2 separate regions of the Homo sapiens genome follow, and region 2 is linked to region 1. The links come from fine-mapping of genetic effects on gene expression. A gene starts in region 1. The other region holds a variant in brackets. All regions are shown on one strand. Distances are between the middles of the regions.

The links.
Region 2: its variant is fine-mapped to the expression of CYP3A43 in skeletal muscle (GTEx, PIP above 0.99).

The regions. Positions count from the first base shown.
Region 1 is chr7:99,820,088-99,836,438 of GRCh38, forward strand. It overlaps CYP3A43 (cytochrome P450 family 3 subfamily A member 43), which reads left to right and starts at 7,926. Exons shown (of 13, transcript NM_057095.3): 1 at 7,926-8,099. The coding sequence starts at 8,029.
Region 2 is chr7:99,937,172-99,953,522 of GRCh38, forward strand. LOC124900245 (small nucleolar RNA SNORA40) reads left to right here and starts at 14,862; the gene lies at 14,862-14,987. RefSeq lists enhancers at 6,787-7,642, 8,500-9,355. The variant C/CAT (reference allele first, on the strand shown) is at 6,022.

The DNA.
Region 1 (16,351 bases):
TGTGAATAACTGTCCAGGCCATCTGCTCTGTAACTTTAGACTTTTAGTGCTAATCAGGCCTATTTTTCTTATTTGTTTTGAAGATGAAAGACATAATGGAGGGGAAGTTGCTTAAGCATTGAATGCTACAAACATAAATTATCATTACTGATCTGTTGGGGCTCAGAAGAAAACACTTGAAAATAGGACACTGTGGCAAGCTGAGTACTTTGAACTAAAGGGGACTGGAGGATCTCAGAAATGGCCTCAGAACTAAGGTCTCTCTGACCTTCTCCTGCCTCCCATACTTTCCCTCCAAAAGTGCAGAGAGGGGCTTTCTCTGAAGTTCCTTTATCTGACTAAGGAAAGACCTGCCAGAAAGAATGCAATTGTCTTTAGCACCTCCAAATAATATCAACAAACAGAATATTAACTTACAGGAAAGAAGTAGAAAGTTGATAATACTTATTCTTTGGAGCACTGCTACCTGACACACTTTATCTCCATAATAAAATAACCTTTGTTCATCATGCATTTTCTCCCCTATCCTTCCATAGCTTGTGTCACCAACTCCCCACCAGAAGTCTTTAAATTTTTAGTAAGTCACAATGCTATTTAAGCTTCAACCACCTGGTCATTATTTAGTCTTATATATTGTGAGTCTCCAGTGTGTATGCATTTCATAAATGTGTATGCATTTTTTTTGAGACAGAGTCTGGCTCTGTGACCCAGGCTGGAGTGCAGTGATGCAATCATAGCTCACTGCAGCCTAGAACAACTGGGCTCAAATCATCCTCCCACCTCAGCCTCCTGAGGGCTCAAATCATCCTCCCGCCTCAGCCTCCCGAGTAACTGAGATGACAGGTGCTGTTAATCAATCCATTGTCAGGTTCTCAGACTCAAACATTAAGCCTCCAGAGGAACTGAAGTTTTCTCTCCCCACCTCCTACAGTTTTGGTGAGACAACCAGGAGATAAAGTCACTCCGCAGCTTCTGAAGCTACAGTTGAGAGACCCTGAGACCTGATGAAGCTGGAGAAAGGTAGGAATCCTTACCCAGTCTGTCTCCTGGATCTCTGCTTGTGGAACCAGGTTGAACAAGTGGTAATATCACTACTAGTCTCATGTTTCTTTCCAAACTTAGATTAGTAGTAGAAAACCTTTTTGTAAACTTGTTCTTGGTATACATCTAGTGTTTTTATTTTTGCTATGAGTATTCTGCATTTCTGGTCCCTGCCCCTTCAGAGATGGTCTTTGCTTTCCTTTGTCTTGTTGTCATTTGTCAGAAAGAGGAGAATTGTAGGGCAGAACATGGGCATAAGGTCTTTTTATAAGCCTGTCATTTAAGCCCACCAAGCAGACTGGTGACTTCATATTTCTCAGCAGACCAGCATCTGTTTAGGCAAACTTTGCAGTGTATCTCTCAGAAAAAAATCAAATGAGATCTTCCTTTTGTCTATTTGTATGTCCTGAGAAATTGGCTTTGTTGCCAAGTGAGAACATCTCTCTCTGGTCTCTGTTACCTGGGGGTCTGATTTTTGGTTCCCATCTGGCTGCTAGTCAAAAAGGCCAGGGACCCATGACATGAAGTAGAAAGTAGCATTCTCTTTGTCTGACCATGCCAGCTCTTAGGGGAGTTAGTCTTAAGAGGCTCAAGTCCATGAGGGCTTTTGTCATCTCAACCTTCACCAAAATGAGTGACTGAAGCATAAGTCTCAATCACCGAGGATTATTGAGCCAGCTTAAGTGCATGCCCAGGAAAAATGTAAGTCACACATGCATCTGTGGCTGGTTTTTTTCCAAAGAGGTTCTCAGAGATTTAATATTTATACATTTTCCTTTAAAATGGTGGGGGGGTGTTATGAGATGAGTGATTACATACTTGTGAGACTTTAGTTAGTGCCTTGTCATATGATAAGGTGAACATTTAAAGAAAAAGTAATAGAGGAAGTAGATATCTCAGGGAAGGGTGAGGGAAGGATTAATCTCATCTTATCCTTACCCTGTACCTGGAAGGATAAGCTCATAACTGACAATATTGGTGTGGAATCTTTTGAAGGGGCTGCTTTCTTTTTCACCTTTAGGAAAGAAGGTCTAATGACAGTGAGCAATGGAGGGGGTATAATGAGGCATGCTGGACCTCCCTTTTCCTCATGCCCTGGAATTCAGTTTTTCAGGTTCCTCTGGGGTCCACTTAGCCAACGGTGGGTCTGTTTATTTGGTGGAGGGGGCTTGGGATTTTGTTTTTGGTTTACATTCTCCTTTATTTGGGCCAAGATTTTCCAGAGCCAACATCAATGGCAGACTTTTATTTGGTCTCATCATTGCTGTAATGGTGTGGCTGTCTGCCCCAAGTCCACCCTGTCCCTCCATGGGGCTCTTATGGCCAAAGGACTTAAAGCCAAAAGACTAATCGCTGATTTATATGTTCTAGGCCAGACAGGAATAGAGGTGGGAAGGCATTCATCAATCCTTAAAATCTTTTTTAAGTAATATAAGAGCCAAAAAACAAAAGTCAAAAGACTTTTGTCATGAAAGGCAAGGTTACAAAATAGACTTATCTGTAAGTTATATGCACTGAGCTACTATAATCTAGGTTTTAGTTACAGACTTGTAGCAATTAGCTGTATAAAACTTGAGCATTTTGTTAAAACCATTTAAGCTAAGAAATTTAGAGACTCTGGTTGTCCTGCAAAGTTTCTTGTGGTCTCTCTAATATTTGTCCTAAAGTGGTCAGTACATTTATTTTTATAGATCTATTTGCATAAATTCTATAACTGGGAACAAGTGTACAAAGGTTATTGATGGCAGTGGCTGCTCCAGACAGCCTGCCACTGCCATTACGCTGGCTGCAGCAGGGAGGTGGGCGGGGCTGCACACTCCATGGAGCCCTGCCCAAGTTGGGGCAGGAGCTCCCTGGGTGCTGCTGCAGCCACCCAAACCACAGCTGCAGACCCAGGCCTCCAGCTCCATGGAGCAGGCAGAAATCCTCCCTCACCCACCCCTACAACCCACCCCACCTTTCCTCACCCCCATCCCCCCTACCCTGCACAGCTGCAGCCACCCACCAGCTGCAGACTCAGGCATCCCTGCACTCTTGGGGGCCCAGGAAGGCCCCCCTACCCTCACAGGCTCCAAAGTGCCTGCTCCTGCTCCCTGGCTTCTCCCTGCTGTCAGCACCCTCTCCAATCTCATAGCAAAGTGAGGCTGAGCCCTGGTGCCAAGAATGGAAGCAGGAGGCAGACAGATTCCCAGGTAGAAGTAGGTGGGTCCCCAGTGAGGCCCCACCTTCAGGTCAGGGAGGGCCTGAAGGCTGGTGGCTGGGCTGCCAATCCCATTGACCAGACTGGGAAGTTGTGATTCTTTTTCCAGCCCTTCCATGGCTGCCCAAGGACCGATCAGTGCACACTTCCTCCCCTCTAGGGCCCATAAAAGCCCCAGGCTCTGCTAGAGCTGAGCAGACATCAGGTGGACCAGCTGCAGAAATGAGCTACCCTCTCTGCTGATAGCAAGAGACATTTAGACAACCAGCAGCAGAGAGGGGCTACCCACTCTAGGGCCTCCTCTCTGCTGAGAGCCTCAGAGACCCGCAGAGACATGCAGACTACCAGCTGCAGAGAGGAGCAACCCACTCCAAAACCCCCTCTCTGCTGAGAGCTGCAGAGATGACAGGATGACCTACCTGAAGAGAGGAGCCTCCCAACCCAGGGTGTCTTCTCTGCCAGGAGCTGAACACTGATCGGGACACCCTGACTGTGGAAAGTAGCTACCCTTTGTGGGTCTCCTGTGAGCTGTTCTATTGCTCAATAATGCTCCTCTTCATCTTGCTTTCCCTCCACCTGTCTGCATACCTCATTCTTCCTGGTCGAAGGACAAGAACTCAGGACCCACTGAATGGCAGAGGTAAAACAGCTATAACATAAACAGGGCTGAAACATGCCCCTTGCTCACCACGTTGCAGGCAAAGAGAAGGAGAGAAGAGCCACAGTCCTTCAGGGAGCCCAGACCTGGAAGCTCCCCAAAACAGGGTTGTGACTCTTTGGTATCCTGCAGTGCCTGGTGTCTCCAAGTTTGCAGTAACCACTGCATTCCCCAGTGCTGGCTGGGGAAACTGCTTGCAGTGCACCTGGTCCAGCCACAGCCTCACAGAGAGCCAGTGCCTGTGCCGGCACCTGGAGCTGCCTGTCACTGCAGCGGCTGTAGTGTCTGACTGTGCAGTGGCCTGACCCCACATTCATTCACACACCCCTCATGGCTCCATTCCTAACTCACCCTTGGCAGGCATGGGATCCAGGCTGGTAGTGTGGACTGTGTGCAGCTTGCCAACCCAAGTGGGTGGAAGAAGCCCAGCAAGTCCGAGCAAAACTTGGGCAAAGGTGCCACTGGCCAGAGGTTTTAGGCCATAAAAGCAACACCTCAAGGATCCTATAACATTATTGTGATGTCTTCTCCATAATTTTCTTATCTTTTTATGGAAATTTCTTGATTAGATTACTGAATTCAGGATGGAGCTCTTAAATAGAGTGATGAAAGCTTTTTTTCCCTCTTTTTTGAAACAGTCTATCTCTGTCTCCCAGGCTGGAGTGCAGTGGTGTGATGTCAGCTCACTGCAACCTCTGCCTCTCGGGCTCAGGTGATCCTCTGGATCACCTCAGCCACCCCAGTAGCTGGTATTACAGGCATGCGCTACCATGCCCAGCTAATGTTTGTATTTTTAATAGACATGGGGTTTCATCATGTTGGCCAGGCTGATATTGAACTCCCGGCCTCAAGTGAGTCACCTGCCTCAGCCTCCCAAAGTGCTGGGATTACAGGCGTGAGCCTCCTTACCTAGCCAAAGAAAGCATTTTAATGTTTGGCTGTACTATGAATAATTCTGAAAAAGAAGTCAGTCTATTTTACCTGAGGATCTATCCTTTATAAACATTTTAGGCTTTGATTTTTTAAAACTGAAGGTACCCTTTTGAGTGACACCAAAACCAGTAAGTTCAGGCCTGTTGATATGTGACACTGGGTAGGTTCTCCGGGGATTGGACTTTCCCAGGACTAACCAAGTCACAAGGGTTAGGGAAGCAAAAGACCCATAGGGATGGGGCTTCTTAAGAGAAACTCCCCCGAGAGCTGGACATGTGTAGAACAACAGGTGTGTTCTTCAGAAGCACCAGCTGCTCAGTCCGCAGAGCCAGCTCCAACAAGTGGGCTTATAGGGGTTTCAGGCCCATGTTCTACACTCCTGTAGCCCCTTTTATGACAGAACAGCACAGAAATACAGGAACAAAGGAAAAGACTATTTCTAGAGGAAAAGGGGATCAAACGATGTGAGTATTCATAAGAGAAAGTACTAGAGAGTACCCTAGAGTTGCTGCACCCAGCACTAGTAACACAAATCCTTTTCTCCTATTTATTAAGATTTTGCAGAGGAGACAAAGAGCAATTCTTAACATCTGCCCAAGTGGATCTCCCAGAAAGAAAGGCCAGGAGCTTGTCTGGAAAGAAATTCTTACTTTTCTCAGCCAGACATGGAGGCATGTGCCTGTAGTCCCAGCTACTTGGGAGACTGAGATAGAAGGATCACTTGAGCCCAGGAGGCGGAGATTGCAGTGAGCCAAGATCACACCACTACATTCCAGCCTGGGTAATAAAATGAGACTCTGTCAAAAAAAGAAAAAGAAAAAAAAAGAAATTCTTACTTTTCTGCTGACTTACAAGTGCTTGGGCTCCCTTCACTGAGGCTTCTGAAAGAACAGAGTGGCTTTGGTATCCTGCTCATAGGGACAGAACTGCTGAGGCCAAGAAAAATGTTTGTCCTTTCTCCTCTGAAGGTTTGTTAACAACAAAAAAAATCACCCACAAAGGAGATTAATGGGAGAAATAGCATACATATTCATTCATATGTTTATGGAGGAGAAATACAGAGTGATTCCCCCTTCTTGAGAAACAGTAAGTCTCAAAGAAAGAGACTTTCTTTCACCCCCTTTTATCCAGGGGTAAGAACAACTAGCTGAACAAAACTGACAGCTGTCAATCAAGTGGGAAGTCCAAAACTCATGAGAGACCCACCCAGTTTTCAATCATCATGAAGGAGCCAGGGGCTCAATGGCCCCTGCTGGTACCAAGTTGCCAGGTCCCTGCAATGTTCCAGACAAAGACAGTGATGGTAAAAAGGGAAAAGTGGAGGTAGAATGCAAGTGCAGCAGCAGGAAGATATGGGACTCTCCATTTTAGGGTCTTCAAGTTTTTCAGATTTTCTGAGACATGGGTTAACTCTTCAGGTTAGTCTCCTAGTAAAACACAGCCAAAGTCCCAATTGTGTTTGAAACTTTCAAAAATGCAGATTGAAAGAAAGCCTCTTACTGTCTTTGAGAAGTCCAGACTCCTCTTATCCTCATTGCATGCTTCGGAGTTCAATTTAGGTGTATCTCTCACATCCATTTCTGTCGAGCCTTTACCTTTAAATTTTAAACTTGAAAAACTGCCAGAGTACCTGATAGTGATTGATCAGAGACAGAGCCACCGAATTACCCGATGGCAGGCCTTAGAGACCATGGCCTTAGGACCTAGGTTATGCATAGCCCTCACCTTAGGAAGGGGTCCCTTCAAGGGCAAATAAAATGCGATAGTCCTTGCAACACTGAAGCATGGAGTATCCTGTGAGGCATGAACTTGCTTGATGCAGCATGAATGCACCCCAAGAAACATGGGCATGCCCCTCCAAGTGCAAGCATACCCCACAAGTGGGTAGCCATAGAGCCAGAAGGGCAGGTTCCCTGAAAAAAATAAAGACCTCAAGACCTCATCCTAAATGTGAGATCTTGGATGTAAGAGGATTTACTGATTTTTCCACAAAACAGCCAGGCCAGGAAGATAACTGAGCTTAGAGGACTCTTGCTGGTGCCAATGCATTGATTAGTCCAGATGACAAGGGAGAGGATCTTGAGAGCCAATTTTGATCCCTTCCTCATCACCAGGAAATATGAGTAAAGATTGTGGGATCTGTGGAGGACAGAGGGAGAGCTTCATTTTCTATAAAACACAGTCTGCAGATTGAGGAGATGCAGCCTCGGAGGTGGAGAGCTATAAAGTCAAAAACCACAGAGCAGGATAGAGGAGTCAGAGGAGTGAAGAAAAGAGTCTTGATTAGACAGCCTTTAAGCCCCAAGTCACATGTCTCTTAATTGGCTGTTCCTAGGTGGTCAGTTAGTTCTTACCACATGATCTGTTGGTGAGCAGTTGGAAAATTCCCAGGTACAGATTTTTTCAGAAAATGTTATTTGACTTGGCTACAGAAAAATAGGTTTTGCAACACTTACTAAGAACACAGAGAACATGACCATCACCTAAACCTGCCATGGCCTCTTGGGTTTGTTTTTGCTTTTGAGGCACAGGGAGTCCTTCTTGTCTGTTTACCTGGAGGCATGATTTGGCAACCTAGATAACAAACAGAGATAGGCTTTCTAAAAAGAATTATTTTTATTTGGGAATAAAGCATTGCAATGGGAATATGCGTGCCAAGGTAAACTATGTGCTTATTCAGGTAGGTAAAGTAAGACAAAGTTTAAAAAAATAATGAGAAGGATTACATATTTGTTTTGGAATGATTATCCTTGGCTATAAAGATCAATAACAAGACTGACATCAGTTTGAGGTTGGACAGGCAGTTGCTGGGCAGATGTTCTTGCAGAAGTATTTTTCTTTAGGTTCCTGAGAATCTATAACCTTTGGGCTTACCAATAGCAGTGACTGATTTGTTTACTGATTGTTCACAGAATAGGAAATCAAAGGAGGCCAAAATAAGGACAGCCATAATTATTTGCCAATTGTCAATTTGAAAAGGGTACCCAAATCCCTCCATATGAGGAGTAGCATAAGTGGCTTTTCTACTGGCTGCCGCTGTAGACCCACCTCCTTCTCCAGCACATAAATATCGCTGTTAACATTAACTAAATCACCTCTGGGCAGAGAAACAAAGCTCTATATGCACAGCCCAGCAAAGAGCAGCACACAGCTGAAAGAAAAACTCAGAAGACAGAGCTGAAAAAGAAAACTGGTGATGGATCTCATTCCAAACTTTGCCATGGAAACATGGGTTCTTGTGGCTACCAGCCTGGTACTCCTCTATATGTGAGTAACTATGCAGGCATGTTTGCTCTTAACTCTAAGACCTGAAGTGCTAATTGGGCCCATCTTTTTCTTATTTGTTTTGAAGATAAAAGAGATAACGGAGGGGAAGTTACCTAAGTGCCAAATACTGTGAACACATAAAATATTATTAATATGTTAGGACTCCTAATACAACATTTGAAAATGTAAAATTTAGTCTGGGTGCGGTGGCTCACACCTGTAATCTCAGCACTTGGGAGGTGGAGGCAGGCCAATCACAAGGTCAGGAGTTCAAGACCAGCCAGACCAACATGGTGAAACCCCTTCTCTACTAAAAATACAAAAATTAGTCAGGCATGGTGGCACACACCTGTAATCCCAGCTACTTGGGAGGCTGAGGCAGGAGAATCGCTTGAACCCAGGAGGCAGAGGTTTCAGTGAGCGGAGATTGCACCACTGCATTCCAGCCTGGGTGACAGAGCAAGACTCCGTCTCAAAAAAAAAAATAAAACTTTGTCATACTGAGTAGTTTGAACTAAAGAAGACTGAAAGACTTCACAAATGTCTTCAGAATCTCTGACCCTCTTCTGTCTACCCATCCCCCATTCTTTCCCTCCTGAAGTGCAGGGTTGCTCTGAAGTTCTCTTATCTGACTAAGGGAAGATCTTCCAAAAAGAATGCAATTGTCTTGAGCCTCTCCAAATAATCTCATCAATCAGAAAACTAATTCACAGGAAAAGAGAAAAAGTTTGATAATACTTATTCTTTGGAGCACTGCTACCTGAGAGACTTTATCTCCACAATAAAATAACCTTTGTTCATCATGTGTTTTCTCCCTTCACCTTCCCATAACTTGTGTCAGAAACTCCCTATCAGAAGCCACTCCCTACTTTTTAGCTTACAATGCTATTTAAGCTTTACTCATTCAGTCCTTATTTTAGTCTCATATATTGTGGGCCTCCAGCACATATGCATGTAAAATTTTGTATGGATTTTCACTGTAACCACCCAAGAGATTCACCTTGCCCCCTGCCTCAACAGAGCCCATTCATCAAGACAGGGGAATTGTAATAGAGAATGAGTTAATACATGCTGCCAACAAAAAGAGCCAAACTCTGTACAATACTTGAAGAGATTTATTCTGGGCCAAATATGAGTGACCATGGCCCATGACACAGCCTTCAGGAGGTCTTAAGAACATGTACCCAAGGTGGTCAGGGTGCAGCTTGGTTTTATTCTTTTAGGGAGGCATGAGATATCAAATACATTTAAGAAATACATTGGTTTGGTCCACAAAGGCAGGAAATGTGATTTTTGCAGAATTCTTTGTGATAGAGCAGACTCCAGAGAAATTGCAACAACTTAAAGTCTTTCAGATCTGGCCCTAAGGAGCTATAGGAGAGAAAAAAAATCTGTCAGATCACCATTGCCTACCTCTACTCCAACTGGAGCTGTTTCAAAACCAACATGTAGAAATCTTTTTGTCTGGCTGCCCTGTGAACTCAGAAACTAGTCTGCTAAATGATTAACTTTTGGTCTCCTTTTGCTTTGGTAGAATGACCTCTTATTAAGTACCTGTTTAACTGCACCATATACAGACCTATCTTTCATGACAGCAGACCTGCAACATCACCTCCTGAAATGAGGCACAGCTGTTTAACTGGATTGACATTGCTAGGAATGTGAGACTGGTTTATACTGGTTTAATGTGATTCCTTGCGACTCAGCTACCAATTCAATTGTCCTCTCCACAAGCATCAACTCAGCTTTAGTATGTACATTTTCTAGGGAAGTTTATGACAGGGGAAAGTTGGGGCTCCAAAAATGAAACCCCAAAATATGGCACTTAAGCATGTTGAGGACTTTGAACCAAAGGAAATTGAAAGGTCTCAGAAAGTCTTCAGAACCAAGCTAACTCTTATGTTCTCCTGTCTCCCAACCCTGCTATTTCTCCCAAAATATAGGAAGGGGCTTTCTCTGAAGTTCTCATACCTAAAGGAAGATCCTCCTAAAAAAAAGCAATGGTCTTGAGCCCCCTCCCTATAATCTCATGAAAAAGAATCTTAGCAGGGCCAGGCATGGTGGCTCATACCTGTAATTCCAGCACTTTGGAAAGCCGAGGTGGGTGGATCACGTGAGGTCAGAAGTTCAAGACCAGCCTGGTCAACATGATGAAACCCTGTCTCTACTAAATATACAAAAATTAGCTGGGTGTGGTGGCAGGTGCCTGCAATCCCAGCTACTCGGGAGGCTGAGGCAGGAGAATCGCCTGAACCCTGGAGGCAGAGGTTGCAGTGAGCCAAGATTGCGCCATTGCACTCTAGCCTGAACAACAAGAGCAAAACTTAGTCTAAAAGAAAAAAAAAAGAAAAAAATAATATTAGCTCACAGAAAGGGAGACTAAGGTTGATAATACTTGTTCTTTGGAGCACTGATGCCTGACAGACATTATAATAAGATGACTTTTGTTTATCATGCTTTTTCTTCCCTCACTCTCTCATGTCTTGTGTCACCCACTCCCCATCAGAAGATACTACATTTTTATAGCTCAGAATGCTATTTAAGCTTCAATCATCAGGCCATTCTTTGAGTATCATATCTTTCAAGGCTCCCATGCATATTCATGAGATAAATTTATAAGGATTATCTCCTATTAATTGATCTACTGTTAGTTCATTTCTCAGACTCAAATATCAAACCTCCATAGAGGAATGTTCTCTTGACCCTACAGATGTTACACAGATCCGTTGAAGAAGTAAATAAACATTATCCACCTCCTCTTCATTCAACTTCCAATTTCTGTTACTAAGAGTGTTTACTGACATCATTCAATCCTGGGGATGCTTTCTGATTGACTATGAGTTTTGATCTACCTAGACTAACAACCAGAATTTAGCATGGGCAGATAATGGATTATAAACAACTGGAAACCCAAGAGGTTATTTTCGATGTGTGAGTAGGAAAAGATCCCCAAAGAGGGAACCAAGCTAACAGCTGGGCCTGGCCAGGGTGCCACTGTGGGGTCCTTCAAACACATTCTCTTCATGCAATTTTTCAGCTTTATCACATTTTATAAGATTTATTTATTTGTACTGAATATTTAGGATCTAAGAAAAGCTAACCTATAAAGAAGAGAAATCAAGTTTCTAATTCAACTGTCTGGAATATTTTATGGTTACTTATGCTATGTAGCACAGTGAAACTTTTCTATCAACAGAAATGTTCCTGAATTTTGGAAGACCTCTCTTTCAGCTGAAAGCACATAAGGGGCATTTAAAACTATTTATGCATACCATAATTTTCAGCCACACTTTCCTAACTTACCCTTATAGGGCCTACTTTGTGGCACCAGCAGTTGCATGGTTACATCGGCGGGATGCAGCCTCTCTTTTTCCTCCAGTCTTCCATCCCTCAGTAACACCAGAGTGGGAAGTTCTGCAAGGATCCAGAACCTGCAATTGATGGAGTTCACACATAACCCATCAAAGATGAGTTGCAGGCAGGCCTGCCATAAGGAGCACCAGACTTAATGGGTTTTCCTGCAGGATAGTTGATGTACAGAAGCAGTAAACTGACTCTGTGTGACTGATCATTTTGAGAAAAAAAAAAAGTGAGCATGACTGGCATTGTGCTTATCAAGTAAGGATCACCAGTTGGAGGGCCAGATTGCACAAGAGGAGGAATGGCCTTGAAATTTATTCTTTAGTCATTGGTTCCTCTGCATAGTGCCATTCAGAGAACATATAGGTCAATCACATTTACTGTAGTTTATATCAATCAAATCATCTGACCACAGAGATTTGGGTGTAGCTGGAAGGTGCTCACATTTCTATGAAGCCAGTGGAAGCCTTGAATATGGTTGTCATTCCATAGAAATAAGAACACTATGATTCTTCCAGAGCTCCTCTGTGCAGGAATGTTTAAGGATGGCCAGATCCTAAAACAAGGTCAGTGTTTAGAGGGAAGGAAAAGCATAAACACCTCTGAGAAAACAGGAAAGAAGGTGTCAGCAAAGGGCCTCAGTAACCCTCTGTAATTCAATGGATGTAGTGATACACAAACTCATTATTAGTTCAAAAGATAAAAAAAAAAAACCTCACCTAGTGATATGGTTTGGCTCTGTGTCCCCAGCCAAATCTCATCTTGAATTGTTATCCCTATGTGTCAAGGAAGGGACCTGGTGGGAGGAATTGGATCATAGGGGTGTTTTCACCCATGCTGTTCTCATGATAGTGAATGAATTCTCACAAGATCTGATGGTTTTAAAAGTGTGGCACCTCGACCAAACACCGCATGTTCTCACTCATAGGTGGGAATTGAACAATGAGAACACATGGACACAGGAAGGGGAACATCACACACCGGGGACTGTTGTGGGGTGGGGGGAGGGGGGAGGGATAGCATTAGGAGATATACCTAATGCTAAATGATGAGTTAATGGGTGCAGCACACCAACATGGCACATATATACATATGTAACAAACCTGCACGTTGTGCACATGTACCCTAAAACTTAAAGTATAATAATAATAGAAAAAAAAACAAAACAACAAAACAAGAAAAAAAAAGTGTGACACCTCTTCTCTCTCTCTCTGTCTTTCTCTCTCTCCTGCCTCCATGTAATACATGCTTTGCTTCCCCTTCACCTTCCACCATGATTTTAAGTTTCCTGAGGCCTCCCCAGCCATGGAGAACTGTGAGTCAATTAAGCCTCTTTTCTTTATAAATTACCCAGTCTCAGGTAGTTCTTTATAGCAGTGTGAAAATGGACTAATACACCTAGAAAGAGAATTTCCAAATCAGGAAAGAATCAATTAACTAAATAGACATACGTGAATGAAATGCCCTGGAAGAATTCCAGTCTGAACCTCTTAAGGGCACTCAAATTTGGGAACATTTATTAAGCATTCACTCTAGCACTGGGATCATGCAGACTTCAGCTGCTTTTAGTTAATCATTGTGACTTTTTGGGGTCTCACAGAGGAGGCAGCAAAAAAGATGAGGATTGAAATGTAGTGGGATTTTAAGGAATCAGAGAGACTGATGGGGTTCAGGAGGATATTTATTAATTATTTAGGTGCACCAGCCCAGTCGGATTAACATCCAGAGGACTGAGCTCTGAACAAAGAGTTTAGTTACCTTTTAAGCATTTCGTGGGAGGGGGGAGATCTGTGGAGAGGGAAGCATACTAGAGAAGTAAGAAACAAACACAGTTATTCAATTGAGAAATGCATTACATCATTTCTTACATTTCAAGGAAAAACACGTTTTGTGACTTGAGTTTATCTGTCTAGTGACCTTGCAGCTGCACAGCTAGGGAAACAGGGTCTTTGCAATGCCTGGGAAGGGAGGAGAGATAAGGCTCACTAGCCTCAGAAAAACAGGCAGTTAGTTTTTAAAAGACTCCAGCTCTTTCTCTTTTTCAGGGGAAGTTGGGTTTTTTTCATATACAACTCAGTTTCTGCTTACGCACTCTTTAATTTCTTTTAATTCCTGTTCCATTGTCCCCTTTGGTGCTTTTTACAACAGAAGTGTTAATAGAAAGCACCACTATTTGCCACCTCCTCGCGGAGCTGAGCTTTTTCTTCTACCGGCAGCAGCTGATATCTGGTTAATGCCACAACTGTGCGGTAGCGTGTCAGGCTACTATTGCCTCTATAGTTGACTGAATACTCCTAATAAACAGGGGTAAAAGGCAAGGGAGGATGAGGCAAATGCCAAAAATAAGCAAGAACTCACTAATGAGGGTTTTGAATTCTCCAAAGGCTGACAACCATCCTCCAAATAAGGAATCCAGGGACCACCTGGACCAAGTCTGAACTAGAACATGTGCCATCTTGCACATTCTAGCTGTGATTTTCATGACAGCTAGGCCATTATCATCGATTTCTAAGCAACAATTGGTTAAATTAAATTTTTCACATACTCTTCCTTCTGAGGCTAAGAGGAAATCTAAAGCCAGCCTATTTTGATATATAGCATTTCTCATTTGTGTTGCTTGTATTGCCAATAAATCTAGTGCCCTTGATGTTTTATTGGTTATAATTTCAAGGACTGCCCGCAACCTTATGATGCAGTTGAGCATATAGATGGGGGTACGGTACCCCCATGACCTTTCTTGCACCTAGGTAGCTGGCCTATAGTATTTAATGATTCTTTCAGGAGGCCATTTGTTATCTTTCCAGTCTCCTATGTCCACATCTTTTTTGATATTTGTGTTTATTTTTGTGATTATGCCTCTTCTAGTTCTTTTATTTTCATCATAAACTGGATATCCTAAGAGTTCCCCTGGCTTTAGAGGAATTAGAAAGAAGGATGGCTTGATTGTTTCTAACACACATTCCCCTGTCCATTTAGTCAGCAGCTGATATGCCTGTGCTCCACAGGTCCAATATAGGCCAGAGGGTGCTTTCTAAGCATTTGGAGCCTCTAGCCGATGCCAAGTGCGGCTTAGAATAGACAGTGGAGGGAAAGGGTTTTGATCTTGTAAGTAGGAGTTGTTCTGGGCATTTCTTCAATAGAGTTTTGTTTTTAGTCTCATCATAATACTGTTGCCCTAGGCAGATTGTTTCTCCTACTGCCCCTGTGAAAGCCTTTCCTCATTGGGCAATACAGTACTTTCCAATTATGGAGGTTTTTAACAACCAAACACTGGTTGAGGCTGTTGGTTCACTGGTAGGGTTAAGCGAAGTGAAGTTATTTTGTGGCATTAATTCCTTTGCCTCCCATGGCCACTGGTCCCCCATATTAGTTCCTCCACATACATAGCATGAGGAAATTCCTAAGCTGCCAGCTATGTTTTCAGCTAGTTGAGCAAATAAGTTTTTGGTTGATGGGGGAAGCTCGGGCACCGGCTGATCAAAATGCTTATAGAATGACTTATGAACCCAGAATTGTGGGGTTGGACACATCTGAGTTCTTCTAGTCTTTTTGACAATCAGTAGTGGAATTCTAAGGCCTGCTCCTTGCCTATCAACTCTTAATAGTGCTGTCTGTCCTGTAGACCAAAAAGGTAGCTCTGGCTTTAAGATAGTAAAATTTAAAGGATTGCATGTCTTTGTCTTACGATCTGGTTTGGTTGACATACTACTTAGCAGAACAGTCTTCCCTGAATATAGGTGTTGGTGTTGTGTCAGTGTAGACCACTTAATGTTACAGTCTGGGCATCCGATTTGTCATTCTCTGTACAGATGTTTAGGACTGCTGCTGATAAGCCTCTCGTGTCAAACCATTGCAGACTGCTTCTGGTTTTTTAGGATTATGAACATATGCGGTATGGTAGGCATCAAAATACAAGGAAATAGGCCTGTTATAGAGGGGAAGGGCTTCTTTGGTTTGAGCTATAAGCTCTCCTTCTTTTTCTCCCTCTGATTTAACATGTACCTCAAGCCAGAATTCATAGGGTGAGAGCTTAGGGTCATAACATACATATAGCTGATTATTTCCTGGGTCACAGACTGAATAGGTGGTCTGGTTGTATGTGCAGGTTTCTAACTTGGTTCCTGCACATTCATAGTAGTTATGGTACAGTAGAGTTTTGACTATGGTATTCCTTACCCAGGTAGTGTGTACACAGTGTGGGCATCCTTCTAGAGATTTCTCCCCTTTTAGTGTAGGCAGAAATGGTAACAACATTAGCGTATGTAATAGAAACATGCTTACACTACACGTGGGAATGGCAAACCTTCCTCTGGGCATAGACATTTGCAGCATTTGCAGTAATAACGTAACAACAGAACAATCAGTACTGACAGAATTATAACTAGGCTTGTAAATTGTATCCACATTTACTTATCCAGAGATGGTACTCTTAGCTTCGGCTGTGCATAGACTAGTCAGCTTCCGAGATGTAACTAGAGCAGAGCTTGCAGGAATCCCCAAAGATCAGCCGAAATCAATTATTCAGGCCCCACCTGAGGAAAGGGAATGTCCATCCCCATGTGTGCCAGTATATCTGTCTTTGGTCAGAATAAGGCAGGAAGCAGAGTCAGGAGCACCCGAAAAGTCAGGCTTGGAAGAAAGTGAGGCTCAGTCCTTTGGATGTTAATCTGACTGGCCCAGTGTACCTAAATAATTAATAAATATCCTCCTGAACCCCATTGGTCTCTCTGATTCCTTAAAATCCTGCTATAAAATGTAATTATTGCCATCAGAGTTTCTGTTGTTATTTATTGCCTCCATGTTACCTCCCTCCCTTGAACATTCCAGTTCCTGAGGTAATGTCTGGCCAACCCCTTATCTATAAAGTTACAATTTCTGTAACCTGGCTTTCT
Region 2 (16,351 bases), 120 kb after region 1:
ACAGGTGTGCACCATCATGCCCAGCTAAGTTTTGTAGTTTTTGTAGAGACAGGGTTTCTCCACATTGCCCAGGCTTGTCTAGAACTCCTGGCCTCAAGCGATCTGCCCACCTTGACCTCCCAAAGTGCTGGGATTACAAGTGTGAGCCACCATGCCCAGCCTTGAGTTAATTTCTGTGTATGTTGTGAGGTAATCTCATTCTTTTGCATATGCATATCCAGTTGTCCCAGCACAATTTGTTGAAATGACTGTTCTTTCCCGACTGAATTGTCTTGACACTCTTATCAAAAATAAATTGGCCATAAATTTAAGAATTTGCTTCCCAGCTTTCAATTCTATTCCACTGATTGAATTTATGTTTATGTATATTGTTCTTCTTTTTCAATATTTTTTATCTACTTTGGGTCTTTTGTAATTCTGTTTGAATTTTAGGATCTGTTTGTCTATTTCTTCAAAAAAGGAAACTGGAATTTTTATAAGGATTGCAATGAATTTTTTTATCAATTTGAGAGCACCACCATGTTAACAACATTAAATCTTCTAATCCATAAGCATGGAATATATATTATTTATGTTTTCTTTAATTTCTTTCAACAATGTCTTGAAGTTTTCTGTGTAGAAGCCTGGCACTTCCTTGATTACATTTATTTCTAAGTATTTTGTTCTTCTTTATGCTATTGTAAATTGAATTGTTTTCTCATTCTCCTTTTTGTATTGTTTATTGCTAGTGTATAGAAATAGAATTGATTTTAATATACTCATCTTGTATACTGTGATGTGGCTGAACTAATTTATTAATTATAGTAAGCTGTTGTGGGTTCCTTAGGATTTTCTCTACACAAGATTATGTCATTTTCAAACAAAGTTTTATTTCTTCCTTTCTAATCTAGATGTCTTTTTTTCTTGCCTAATTGCCCTAAATAGAACCGCCAGTACTAGCTAGAGGTGTTGTTGAATAGGTGTGATAAGATCACACATCCTTCTCTTGTTCCTTCTTCTAGGAGGAAAGCTTTCAGTTTTGTATATGTCTTTTATGTTTACCTATGTCATTACCTTTGCAACTGTTCTTTATTTCTTCATATGATCTCTTACTAGCATTCTTTCATTTCAGTCTGTAGGACTTCTCTTAGTATTTTCTGTAGGGCAGTTATGCTAATAATAAATTCTCTCAGTTTTTATTATCTAGAATTGTCTCAATTCCTCCTTCATTTTTGAAGGATACTTTTGCTGGTTGTAGAATCCTTGACTGACAGCCCTTTTCTTTCTGCATTTTGAGTATATCGTTCCAGTGTCTTCTGGCCTCCATGGTTTTGAGGAGATATCAGCTGTTAAACTTATTGAGGATCCTTTGTCCTTAATGAGTTGCTTTTCTCTTGCTACTTTCAAGATTCTCTCTTAAGTTGTTGTTGTTTTATCTGGTCTTTGACTTTTGACAGTTTGATCATCATGTACCTAAGTATGGATGTCTTTGAGTTTATCCTACTTGGAGTTTGTTGATAGCAAATGTGATGCATTTGCAACCGTATATTTTCTCCATGGAAACACTATTTTCTATTAGCCATCTCCACAGATCCCTGAAGGTCAAGGCCCTTTGGCCATAATTTCAACCTTCCTGATTATTATAATAATAATAACTACTTTGCTTCTGATTATTAAGTGCTGCCAAATAGCTTCTGCTGATTCAGAATCCTATCATTCCTATTGCTATTAGGGAACCAGTATATCCAGTATATAAGGGCATCTGCTGTCAGCCTCCGTCTACAGAGGATGAACACTACTGAGATTCTTACAGCTTCTAAACTCCTCATCACCAGCACATTCATTATTTCTTTGGTGAAAATGAGTATTATCCAGGACTTCCCAAGGAATAGAGTCTGGTGGTGGATTTTCCAATCTTTTGTTATAGATCTATTCTCCCACATCCATTTCTCTGAGAACTGTGAACCCTTTACTCACAATTTTCCATATGAGTTCTGACATCTCAACTTTATTAATAGAAGCTCTTGTTGTTTTCCAGCTTTCCAAAAGCCACCCCAGTATCATTTCATATCAACCTCCTAAGAATAAACTTGCTAGGGTGTTAAATCCTGTGTCCCATAAGAATGCCCTATATTGACAAACTCCTACATCCAGCTTTCTATTTTTAGTCCCCTCCCTTTGATCCAGGATCTTCAGAATCTTCTCTCTGATTTATTTTCCTTGCTCCTGATGACACATGTTGTCCAAGTCTTGAAGCTCCTTTAGTATCTAATCCATCCCTCTCCTTAGTAAGTCAAGTACTTCCCCAGTTGGGCCATGCTAAGATTTGATTTTTGTTATGGGTCTAGTGGCCAAAGGGGGAGGTGCAACACATCCTGAGGGGAGCCAGCATTTCCTTACAATGAATTTGTCTAGTGTAAGACTTTTGCAAGGTTTTCAAGCAAGAGTGGGCCTCTATCTTCCAATAAAAAGTGTGAGCCACTTCTGCAGGTCCAAATGGTCCAGAATAATCTGATGATCCAAGGACCTCAAAGGGCATCTATCTAATATCACCATCCCATGTCTCAGGGTCTTATTCTTTCCTATTGAGGTCCTGGTTTTGGTACTAGAAACTTCCCTAGGCTGAAAAATTTGAACTTCTCTGTAGTTATGCCACTCTTAAAGTTAAATATTCAGCCTGGTCTCTCTGCCTTCAGGCAACGAGAGATAAGGGTCTCTTTAAATGTTGCCAAGAAGGCATTGTAACTCTTATATTTTGCTTTAAATTGATTACTTATTGTCCTGAGCCTTTCATTTTTTTCTCTTTAAGGCATCACTGAAGCTCAGTAATAGCCACCTAATTCCATAGTCCTTTATTTTATTTTATTTTGTTTTGTTTTATTTTATTTTTGAGACAGAGTCTCACTCTTGTCACCCAGGCTGGAGTGCAATGGCGTGATCTCAGTTCACTGCAACCTCCGCCAAGTGATTCTCCTGCCCCAGCCTCCCGAGTAGCTGGGATTCCAGGTGCCCACCACCATGCCTGGCTAATTTTTGACTTTTTAGTAGAGATGGGGTTTCACCATGTTGGCCAGGCTGGTCTTGAACTCCTGACCTCAGATGATCCACCTGCCTCAGCCTCCCAAAGTGCTAAGATTACAGGCGTGAGCCACCACACCTGGCTCCATAGCCCTTATACTTGCAATTTGTCTTATATCTCTTAAATGCCAGACACATTACATCAGCCAGTGAATCTAATTCCACCTGTGTCCTAGCCTAGTTATTCCGAGTAAAAGTCTTAACACTTGCACTGCTAAAGCAAGTCAGAAACTATGCCTGCCATCAACATGGCTGTCCCCCTTGCCAGAGGGCTGACAAGTAACCCAGCCCTAGAATCCCATTCTTATGTTGTGCTTCCTAGGACCGCTCCTGGTACCCACTGTCTTAGGTTTGATTCCTTAGAAGCAGAACTTAAAAGAGACTTGAATACATGTGATTTTTTAGGTTGGACTCACCAGTAAAAATCTCTAAGGAAATAGAGGAAGCAGAAAAGGTAATGTAAAAAAAAAAAAAACTGTGCCAAATGTGATCTCAGGTAAGGTTTGAACTTGATCTTGTCCACAGGGGACCCTGAAGCATAAATCATACCACAGATTTTATCCACTTGAGGTAAAAGGGCTGTTCTTTTGTACTCCAATAACATTCAGTCATTGGCATTGGGATGCCATCGGGGAGAGGAAGAAATCATATTATCCCGGGTGAAGCCATCTCTTTTTTTTATTTTTATTTTTTTTGTTTGAGATGGAGTCTCACTCTGTCACCTAGGCTGGAGTGCAGTGGCATGATCTCGGCTCACTGCAAGCTCCGCCTCCCGGGTTCACGCCATTCTCCTGCCTCAGCCTCCCGAGTAGCTGGGACTACAGGCGCCTGCCACCATGCCCGGCTAGTTGTTTGTCTTTTTAGTAGAGACAGAGTTTCACCGTGTTAGTCAGGATGGTCTCGATCTCCTGACCTCGTGATCCGCCTGCCTTGGCCTCCCAAAGTGCTGCGATTACAGGCGTGAGCCACCATGCCCGGCCAAGCCATCTATTTAGAAAAGGAGAGAGTTCATGAGCCAATAATAGCCACCATTAACAACAGCCTGTGAGTGGGCATGCCAGCCCAGAAAAGGACATCTAGACAGGGCACCAACAGTAGATAAGAATGACAGTAGCTTTCTTGTTGGAAACAATATAAGCTAGAAGACAGTGGAAAAACATGTTTAAAGTAATCAAAGGAATAAATTGCCAATGTAGAATTATATACCCAGCAAAAATATTTTTCAGGCCAGGTACGGTGGCTTACACCTGTAATCTTAGCACTTTGGGAGGCTGAAGTGGGCAGATTGCTTAAGCTTGGGAATTCAAGACCAGCCTGGGCAACATGGTGAAACCCCGTCTCTACAAACAAAAAAATACAAAAATTATCCAGGTGTGGTGGCACACGCCTGTAGTCCAGCTACTTGGGAGGCTGAGGTGGGAGGACAGCTTGAGCCTGGGAGGTGGAGGTTGCAGTAAGCTATGATCACATCACTGCACTCCAGCCTGGGTGACAGAGGGAGACCCTATCTCAAAAATATTTTTTTTCAAAAGCTGAGGCAAAAATTAAAACTTTTTAAGATATATAACAGTTGGAAGAATTCATCTCCAGAGTGAATGAAAAAACATATATGCACCATGATAAATGGTAAAGGAAGTCCTTTGAGCTAGAAGAATTTGAAACCAGATAGAAACCTGGATCTACGTTAGAGAATAAAGAACACCAGAAGTGGTAACTATGAGGGTAAATATAAAGATTATTTTTGTTATTATTTAAATCGTTTTAAAGATAATTGATAAAGATAATTAACAAGGACAAACTTAAGAGAATATAGATGATAGTCGTGAAAAGGCACTTCACAGAAGAAATCCAAATGGCCAATGGACAAATGAAACGTTTCCAGAGTCAACCCTTCCCCACTTTATCTCTAAAGATAAAGACAAAGATAATCTTTCACTTAAAGCGAAAAGATAACAATGTATTATGGGGTTTATAGCATATATTGAGGTAAGATATATGGTAACAATTATATAAAAGCCAGGAGGGAAGAAATGGGAGTATACTGTAAGGTTCTTACAATGTGTGAAGAGTGCTATAATATCAATTGAAGTAGACTAATAACATGAAGATATAAACCATAAGCCTAAAATAACCCAAAAAGGGTTATAGTTAATAATACAAACATGGAGGTAAAAATAAAATTATATATAAATATATGCTCAATCCAACAGAAGGTAGAAAAAGAGGAAAGGGGGAACAGATCAAACAAATGGCACAAATAGAAAACAAATAGCAACATGAGAGGTTTAAACCTAACCATACAAATCATCACATTAAATATAAATGATCTAACCATTCCAATTTATAGGCAGAGATTAACATATTAACTTACAAAGCAAGACCTAACAGTATGCTGCCCAAAGATAACTCACTTTAATTATAAAGGTACAAGGTTAAAAGTAAAATAATGGAAAATATACCATGCTGACACTAATCAAAAGTAACCTACAGTGACTATATTAATATCAAAGTAGATTTCAGAGCAAAAAATATTACCAGAGATAAAGAAGATATTTGATTGTTACAAATGAGTCCATTTATCAAATCCTAAATGTTTACACACGTAATAACAGAGCTTCAAAATACGTACAGCAAAAATTAATAGAAATACATGGAGAAATAGACAAATTCACAAAATAGTTAAGGAGCCAACACCCATCTCTCAAAAATTGATAGGACAAGTAGACAGAAAATCAGTAAACAAATAGAAGGCTTGAACAATACTATAAGCCAAATTGACCTAATCAACAAAATTGACAATAGAACATTCTACGCAACAATACATTCTTGTCAAGAGCACACAGAACATCTACCAAGATAGATCATGTTCTACACCATAAAATAAGCCTGGATACATGTAAAAGGATTTAAGTGATACAATATATGTCTTTGATCACAATGGAATTAATAGGGATGGTTTCAGTG[C/CAT]ATATATATATATGTCAAAACATCACATTTTACATTTTATGTGCAGATTTTTGTATGTTACACTTTGCTAAAGCTGCTTTTAAAAATATATATAAAGAGCATGAAAAAGCAAGCCTTGTTATCAGGGATATATAAAGAACTACAAATCAATAACAAGGACAAACTTAAGAGAATATAGATGATAGTCATGAAAAGGCACTTCACAGAAGAAATCCAAATGGCCAATAGACAAATGAAACGTTTCCAGAGTCGACCCTTCCCCGCTCTGCAAAATCACTTCTCAAGAAGAAGCCACAGAGTCAGGTGTGTTCAGCACATTTTTGCTCACAACATGTGATTATATCCTTGGAAACCAAGAGTTGTGACCCCACCATTCTGGGTTACACAGATGGTCTAGCCAGAGTGACCAAAGTCCTTGTCTAAATGTCTGAAGTGGGAGTGGAAAGTGGGGAGCTGCCTAGGACCCAGGAAATAGGGGACATTTTTCAGTTGCATGAGTTTCTCCTGAGTCCTCAATGGCTCCATTTATAAATGTCCCTAACCCTGGGTCAGTGTGGGTATCGGGGGAGGAGACTAAAGTTGGTGATGGGGATTGGGGGGATGGGGATTCTGCCTAATTATTTCTAAGCTTCTGACAGCACCCTAAAGCACAAAGACAAACTTCTCTTTCACAATTATTTTCTGAGGATTAATGCCAGAAAAGAAGCCCCCAAGGGTAAAGGGAGCTCTCATTCCACTTCTTCTATCAACAATGCCCTCTTTGTCTCTCTCCTTCCCACCAGACAAGACCAGCCTCCTCCCACAGCCATACGTTGACAACACGTGCCAAGGCCTGGGGCAACAGGGTACCCAGGGTGAAGGGCTCACCCAAGAGTAGGGAGCGAAGAGAAATGTGGAAGCTCAGCACCTCTGTGCCCCAAGAACGATGATGAAGTGGCGTCATTTGTCTGGAGTAATACCCAAGATTCATTGCCTCACGCCAAGGAAATCAAGAAGGTGGAGACGCACAAGGAGGAGTTTAAGATTGGAGGTTTAATAGGCAAAAGAAAGAGAAAAAAGAAAAGCTCTCTCTCCTGCAGAGAGAGAGGGACTTCCGAGTGGGTCTTCCGGTTTTGTGGTGAAATGCACGGGGGGGGGGTTTTATAGACAAGCTTGAGGAGGCAGTGTCTGATTTACATAGGGCCCGAGAGATTAGTCAGACCAGGTGTGCCATTTGCATAGCGCACCAACAAGTTGGCCATCTCACCTTAACCTTTTATTATGCAGATGGGGTCTCTACTTGGCCATCACCACGTTGCCTGCTTTTTTACTGCAAGCGTGTTGACAAAGGAAAGGGAAGAGGGCACCTCCATGTTGAATATACCTGGCTTCCAGGTGTCCCTTTTCTATTGGCACAGCTGTTGGCATTTACCTATGCAAGCTTTTAGCTTGCTTATCTATGCTTGCAGCTTAATTTTTCAGGCTGCTTATTGTTAGAAAAGAAATTATTTGGGGGCTGCTTTTCATTAAAGGGAAATCTTACCACGGACTCTCTTACCCTCACTATCTGCCTAAATAATTTTTTTCTAGCTCCTGTATCAATGACAGAAGGGATCTTTCTTCTCCCTCCCTCTTTTCCACACCTGGGTGCATCTACCTGGTTTGGGGGAGGGTGAGCGACACAAGGAACAAAGGTTGAGAAGGAATCAGCAGAAGAAAAGGCTCAGAACTGAAAACAAAGCATCTTCCACAGAGTCAAATATAACAGCACAGGGCCTAGGATACTGTGTGACCTAGAGAAAAGGGAGCAAAGCCAGCCTTGGGCCCATCTTTCCGCAGAAATCTGGAAGAAACAAAACTATAAACTGGTGAGGTCTTAAGAGTGCACAGGTTTTAAATCTGTAATATTGACCAACAGTCAGCAAATACATTTCTTTCTCACCAGTATGGCAATGATTCAACTGAGCAACAAGTTGAAATCAAAGAACTGGTGGTACGGAGGCAGCATCCTGGTTTTATTCCATGCTCATCCCTTCCTGTTCATGCCTGGATTTTTTTAACTCTTTTTCTTTTTCTTTGTGAAACAGGGTCTCACTTTATCATCCAGGCTGGAGTGCAGTAGCACGATCTTAGGTCACTGCAACCTCAACCTCCAGGCTCAAGTGATCCTCCCACCTCAGCCTCCTGAGTAGCTGGGACAACAGGTGTACACCACCATGCTTGGCTAATTTTTTTTGTTTTTTTGTGTGGTTTTTTTTTGTTTGTTTGTTTGTTTTGAGACGGAGTCTAGCTCTGTCACCCAGGCTGGAGTCCAGTGGCGTGATCTCAGCTCACTGCAAGCTCCGCTCCCAGGTTGACGTCATTCTCCTGCCTCAGCCTCCCGAGTAGCTAGGACTACAGGCGCCCACCACCATGCCTAGCTAATTTTTTTTTTGTATTTTTAGTAGAGATGGGGTTTCACTGTGTTAGCCAGGATGGTCTCGATCTCCTGACCTCATGATCCACCCTCCTCAGCCTCCCACAGTGCTGGGATTACAGGCTTGAGCCACTGCGCCCAGCCTTTTTTTTTTTTTTTTTTTTTGTATTCTTTTGTAGCGCCGTGGTCTCACTATGTTGCCCAGGCTGCCTGAATTTTCTAATAAATTCTCCTTCCTGTACTTTCTTTCTTTCTTTTTTTTTTTTTTATTTTGGAGACAGAGTCTAGCTCTGTCACCCAGGCTGGAGTGCAGTGGTGCCATCTCAGCTCACTGCAACCTCTGCCTCCCAGGTTCAAGTGATTCTCCCGCCTCAGCCTCCCGAGTAGCTGGGATTACAGGTGCCTGCCACCACGCCCAGCTAATTTTTTGTATTTTAGTAGAGATGGGGTTTCACCATGTTGGCCAGGCTGGTCTCAAACTCCTGACCTCAGGTGATCCACCCACCTCAGCCTCCTGAAGTGCTGGGATTACAGGAGTGAGCCACCGCGCCCAGCCTCCACCATGTGCTTTCTAGCATATAATGGCAAGTCTTTCTGCCCATATGAGCATGCAACACTAGAAAGCTGACAGGAGAAAAAAGGCTGGACATGAAGAGCATGTGGGCAGCTCTTGACCCCAGTTGCCAGGTCCTCCTTCTTGACTTCTTGCTGCCCCACAGTAGGACTCTGCAGTTCACCCCCACCGCAAAGTCCTCTACATTTTCACAAGTCCTTACTTAGTGACTTTCTCTACACCAGAATGTTTAGGCCCAGTGAAGTCCTCCCCAGGTTTCAGGCCACTGCCCACCCCAGCAATCAGGCCTTCTTCCACTATGGTTTTGAATGCAGGAAGGCTGAGTCTCTGGGATCCTGGAGCCAGGTGGTGGGGATGGAGGATAGGAGAAGATCCAAGTTCAGAAAGTCAGGAAAGAAATCTTGTGGGAATGTGAATTAATTCAACCATTGTGGAAGACAGTGTGGCGATTCCTCAAAGATTTAGAACCAGAAATTCCATTTGACCCAGCAATTCCATTACTGGGTATATACCTCAAAGGAATATAAATAATTCTATTATAAAGATACATGCACATATATGTTCATTGCAGCACTATTCACAATAGCAAAGACATGGAATCAACCCAAGTGCTCATCGATGATAGACTGAATAAAGAAAATATGCTACATATACACCATGGAATACTATGCAGTCATAAAAAATAATGAGATCATGTCCTTTGCAGGGACATGGATGAAGCTGGAAAACCATTATCCCCAGCAAACTAACGCAGGAATAGAAAACCAAACACTGCATGTTCTCACTTATAACTGGGAGCTGAACAATGAGAACACATGGACACAGGGAGGGGAACAACACACACTGGGTCCTGTCAGGGGAGGATGTAGGTTAGGGGAGAGCATTAGGAAAAAGAGCTAATGCATGCAGGGTTTAACACCTAGGTGATGGGTTGATACGTGCAGCAAACCACCATGGCACACGTTTACCTATGTAACAAACCTGTACATCCTACACTTGTACCCAGGAACTTAAAAAATAAAATAAAGCCAAGCACAGTGGCTCCTGCCTGTAATCCCAGCACTTTGGGAGGCCAAGGCAGGTGGCTTACCTGAGGTCAGGAGTTCAAGACCAGCCTGACCAACATGGAAAAACCTTGTCTGTACTAAAAACACAAAATTAGCCAGGTATGGTGGCACATGCCTGTAATCCCAGCTACTTGGGAGGCTGAAGCAGGAGAATCGCTTGAACCCGGGAGGCAGAGGTTGCAGTGAGCTGAGATCGTGCCATTGCACTCCAGCCTGAGCAACAAGAGCGAAACTCCATCTCAAAAAAAAATAAAATTAAAATTAAATAAAAAAGAAAGAAATCTTCATGGTAACCTTGAAAAACATCGTAGACTCTGCCAAGGAGAGAGAGGGCCAATGCACTGAGGACTGTGGTTGGAAGGTAGAAACATGCTGTTTTCACAAGCTCATGGGGCAGCCCCAAGCAGGTGTGAAAAGGAGGATTAGCAGGAAGAAAATATCAAAGCCCTGAAGGAGAGATCAAAGGTAAAAGTAGAAATGCACAGACATTTCCCCATTTCCCAACCCCACAACACATCTGCTTCCTCCTTCCCCATCATTCTCTCATCTTCTCTCCAGGCCTCAGCTCACACAGGAAGTGATAGCAGAGTCACTTCTTATCCAGGCACCCCTGACCTCTCACCTCCACACCCAACTCATCTGAGGATGATCCCTCTTAGAAGGTATCAGACTTAGGGCTGGACATGGTGGCTCATGCTTGTAATTCCAGTGCTTTGAGAAGCCAAGGCAGGAGGATGCTTGAGGCCAGGAGTTCCAGACCGGACTGGGCAAAAGAGCAAGATTCCCACCTCTACAAAAATTTAAAAATTAGCTGGGCATGGTGGTGTGCACCTGCAGTCCCTGCTGCTTAGGAGGCTGAGGCAGGAAGATCGCTTGAGCCCAGGAGTGAGACTGCAGTGAGCTATGATGGCACCACTGCACTCCAGCCTGAGTGACAGAGCGAGACCCTAACTCAAAAAAAAAAAAAAGAAACTAAGAAAGAATCAGGATGGTGGCTCTGCTAGTCACTACCTGCTTGACAATGAGCAAGTAACTTAATTCTAGGCTGCATTGCATCAATGAGTTGTGAGAATTCAGTGTAGCAAAACCAGCCTATATGAGTTTCCTGAGGGCAGGGAAGATGTGCCTCTTGATCTTCCCTGAAACCCCTTTGCCAAAGACAATGTTCAGCATTTAGAACTTGCTTGGTAAATAGAGCCCATAGTTTGCAGTCCATGCTAGCTACTCACAAATTGTTGTTTTCCTTGCCACAGACTGTGAGAACTACACGGAACCCTAAGGAGCTACTAATCCAGCTGACACACGTGGAAACTGACTCAGACTAAGTGATACATACAGGCCATATGGACTACCAGACACAGGGCAAGACTAGATGCTGGTTCCTCAGACCAGGTGAAGTGCTGATACCAAGGCATGCAATAAGGGGTAAAGGGTGGAATTAGAGAACAAAATGCTGAGAATCTGGCTCCAGGAAGAGAGATAAGAAGGTAGCCTGGACTGTCTCCTAAGCAGGAGTGATTAAAGCACGGGGAACTGGGAAAGAAGAAGTTATGAGTTACAGGGATGATGGGCACTAGGTATTTACAGTAGACGGGATTTATTAAGTACTGTGTACCAGGTGCATGTTATTTCTTTTATTTTACCTTAATTGTTTTAGAAACAGGGTCTCACTCTGTTGCCCAGGCTGGAATGTGATGATGCAGTACAGCTCACCGTGATCTCAAACTCCTGGACTCAAGCAATCCTCCCACCTCACCCTGAGTATCTGGGACTACAGGCATGCGCCACCACACCTGACTAATTTTTTTAAATTATTTTTTGTAGAGTCAGGGTCATTAATCATAATGCTCACTATATTGGGTAAAATCCTTATTAGGAGTTACTCTTTTAAAAAATCAGATGGAGGAGGTTGAAGCTCTAAGCCCAGGTTGCACTGATCTCAGAAAGTGGGATTCAAGGAGAGGAAAACAATGGAGAATTATTACAAATGGATGGTAGGGATGGGGACACCAGGAATTTGGGATGAGGATGCTAAAAGTAAGATAAATGATGGCCAGGCACAGTGGCTCACTCCTGTAATCCCAGCGCTTTAGGAGGCCAAGGTGGGCAGATCACCTGAGGTCAGAAGTTCGAGACCAGCCTGACCAACATGGAGAAACCCCAACTCTACTAAAAATACAAAATTAGCCGGGTGTGGTGGCGCATCCCTGAAATTGTGGCTGCTCGGGAAGCTGAGGCAGGAGAATGGCTTGAACCCAGGAGGCGAAGGTTGCAGTGAGCCAAGATAGCACCATTGCACTCCAGCCTGGGCAGCAAGAGTGAAACTCCATCTCAAAAAAAAAAAAAAAAGACTAGAAGTAAGAATTCTACAATCATTAGACTGGGCAGATGAACTCTTAAGACGGGAAGAAAAGTTGCAAAACGTTAGAGCTTTAAAATAATTTTACTTGGTTTTGGAATACTTATGAATGTCATGTCTGGTTCTCTTACTATTTACAATATATCCAAAGAAACTGTTTACTGACTTCAGCGGCTGCAAATCTGATTTTTCTCTTCCAGCCCACTCATAGGCTCCTTCTTGTGGCAAAACATGATATTACTCCTAAGACTCAAACACCAACCTAAGCACAAATATCTGGCAAGTGAAGACATTAAGAGTTTTGTTTTATTTGCAAACTGTGCATCTGACAAAGGTCTAATAGCTAGCATCTATAAGGAACTTAAACAAATTTATGAGAGAAAAACAAACAACCCCATGAAAAAGTGGGCAAAGGAGAGGAACAGACAGTTCCCAAAAGAAGACATACAGGCGGCCAACAGACATATGAAAAAACTCAACATCACTGGTCATTAGGGAAATGCAAATCAAAACCACAATGAGATACCATCTCATACCAGTCAGAATGGCTATTATTAAAAAGTCAAAAAATGACAGATGCTGGCAAGGTTGCAGAGAAAAGGGAACATTTTCACATTGTTGCTGGGAATGTAAATTAGTTCAATCATTGTGGGAAGCAATATGGCGATTCCTCAAAGAGCTAAAAGCAGAACTACCATTCGACCCAGCAATCCCATTACTGAGTATATACCCAGAGGAACATAAAGCATTCTACCATAAAGACACATGGGCCAGGCGTGGTAGCTCATGCCTGTAATCCCAGCACTTTGGGATGCCAAGGCAGGCAGATCACCTGAGGTCAGGAGTTCAAGACCAGCCTGGCCAACATGATGAAACCCTGGGCTCTACTAAAAATACAAAAGTTAGCTGGGCACAGTGGCTCACACCTGTAATCCCAGCTACTCAGGAGGCCCAGGCAGGAGAATCATTTAAACCCAGGTGGCAGAGGTTGTAGTGAGCCAAGATTGCACCACTGTACTCCAGCCCGGGTGACAGAGCTAGACTCCGTCTCCAAAAAAAAAAAAAACAAAGACACATCCACATGAGTGTTCATTGCAGCACTATTTACAATACTGAAGTGCCGAGACCAGCTCGGTTGGGGAGACCCTAACCCAGCGGCGCTAGAGGAGTTAAAGATGCACACACAGAAATATAGAGGTGTGAAGTGGGAAATCAGGGGTCTCACAGCCTTCAGAACTGAGAGCCCCAAACAGAGATTTACCCACATATTTAGTAACAGCAAACCAGTTATTATCATTGTTTCTGTAGATATTAAATTAACTAAAAGTATCCATTATGAGAAACAAAGGGATGGGCCAAATTAAAGGAATAGGTTGGGCTAGTTAACTGCAGCAGGAACACGTCCTTAAGACACAGATCGCTCATGCTATTGTTTGCAGCTTGAGAATGCGTTTAAGCGGTTTTCCGCCCTGGGCAGGCCAAGTGTTCCTTGCCCTCATTCCTTCATTCCTGTAAACCCACAACCTTCCAGCTTGGGCGTTAGGGCCATTATGAACATGTTACAGTGCTGCAGAGATTTTGTTTATGACCAGTCTTGGGGCCAGATTATGGCCAGATTTTGGGGGGCTTGCTCCCAACAGTGAAGACATGGAACCAACTTAAATGCCCATCAGTGACAGATTGGCTAAAGAAACTGTGGTACATATACACCATGAAATATTATGCAGCCATAAAAAAGAACAAGATCATGTCTTTTGAGGGAATATGGATGAAGCTGGAGTCTATAATCCTTAGCAAACTAATGCAGCAACAGAACACCAAATACCACACGTTCTCACTTATAAGTGGGAGCTAAATGATGAGAACTTATGAACACAAAGAAGGAAACAACAGACACTGGGGTCTGCTTGAGGGTGGGAGGAGGGAGAGGAGCAGAAAAGACAACTGTTGGGTACTGGGCTTAATACCTGGGTGATGAAATAATATATACAACAAACCACGATGACACATGTTTACCTATGTAACAAATCTTCACACGTACCCCCAAACCTAAAATAAAAGTTTTAAAAAAGAGTTTTGTTTTCAAAATCCTTTCTTCCTAGGAGGTTGCAAATTTTACTGAATAAGAATAACCAGGGATGGGGCCTGGCACGGTGGCTCATGCCTGTAATCCCAGCACTTTGGGAGGCTGAGGCAGGTGGATCACCTGAGGTCAGGAGTTCGTGACCAGCCTGACCAGCATGGAGAAACCCTGTCTCTACAAAAAATACAAAAGTTAGCAGGGCATGGTGGCACATGCCTGCAATCCCAGCTACTCAGGAGGCTGAGACAGGAGAATCACTTGAACCCAAGAGACGAAGGTTGCAGTGAGCCGAGATTGCATCATTGCACTCCAGCCTGGGTGACAGAGCGAGACTCTATCTAAAAAAAAAAAAAAAAAAAAGTAGTTCCTTGGAAGTTAAAGGTTAAGCTTAAGGACTGATTCAAAGGCAGGTGCAAAAAATAAACCCTCTTTTGTAACCCAGAACTCATTTTTCAGTATGAGTTTTGATACATATAAGAAGGAAAGCTAGGCATGGTGGCTCACACCTGTAAACCTAGCACTTTGGGAGGCCGAGGCGGGTGGATCACGAGGTCAGGAGATCGAGACCATCCTGGTTAACATGGTGAAACCCCGGCACTACTAAAAATACAAAAAATTAGCCGGGGGTCGTGGCGGGTGCCTGTAGTCCCAGCTACTCGGGAGGCTGAGGCAGGAGAATGGCGTGAACCCAGGAGGTGGAGCTTGCAATGAGCCGAGATTGCGCCACTGCACTCCAGCCTGGGTGACAGTGAGAGGCTCCGTCTCAAAAAAAAAAAAAAAAGAAGGAATATGATACCTGAGATAGTTTAAAATAATGGAGGTATTGATAACCATAAAGGTTGGTTCCAGGACTGTAGGGTTGATCATTTAAAAGCATAGGACATAAGGAAAATCTCAGCTATGTTGATTTAGTATTCCATTGGAGGTGGAGCTTGCAATGAGCCGAGATTGCGCCCCTGCACTCCAGCCTGGGTGACAGTGAGAGGCTCCGTCTCAAAAAAAAAAAAAAAAAGAAGGAATATGATACCTGAGATAGTTTAAAATAATGGAGGTATTGATAACCATAAAGGTTGGTTCCAGGACTGTAGGGTTGATCATTTAAAAGCATAGGACATAAGGAAAATCTCAGCTATGTTGATTTAGTATTCCATTGGAGGTGGAGCTTGCAATGAGCCGAGATTGCGCCACTGCACTCCAGCCTGGGTGACAGTGAGAGGCTCCGTCTCAAAAAAAAAAAAAAAAGAAGGAATATGATACCTGAGATAGTTTAAAATAATGGAGGTATTGATAACCATAAAGGTTGGTTCCAGGACTGTAGGGTTGATCATTTAAAAGCATAGGACATAAGGAAAATCTCAGCTATGTTGGTTTAGTATTCCATTGTCATGCTTACATGATATGTCAAGACAGCTTTTCTTAAAGGCTTTTACCTTGAGAACATGATTCCTAGAGTTGTAATGGCATATCCCACAGATTTGTACTATGCTTGAGTGTGATTCCTCAGGAACGAATATGATTTGAACTCATTCACGTTTAGAGAGGGTGTCAAGTTGAAAACCAGGCAGATTCACTTACCCTAAAAATGACTCTAAAGTAAAATGATTGAAGAAATTAGATTCCAAAGATTCTGGGTGGAAATTCTGAAGTATATTTACATTCATGTGGACATAAAAGAGGCCAAAATTCAAGAACTGTGGGCTGACAGGAGAGCTGTGGATTAAGCACCAGTTCTATTAAAAGGGAGGCTGGGCACAGTGGCTCACACTTTTAATCCCAGTGATTCAGGAGGCTGAGGTGGGAGGATGGCTTGAACCCAGGAGTTCGAGACCAGCCTGGGCAATATAGCAAGACC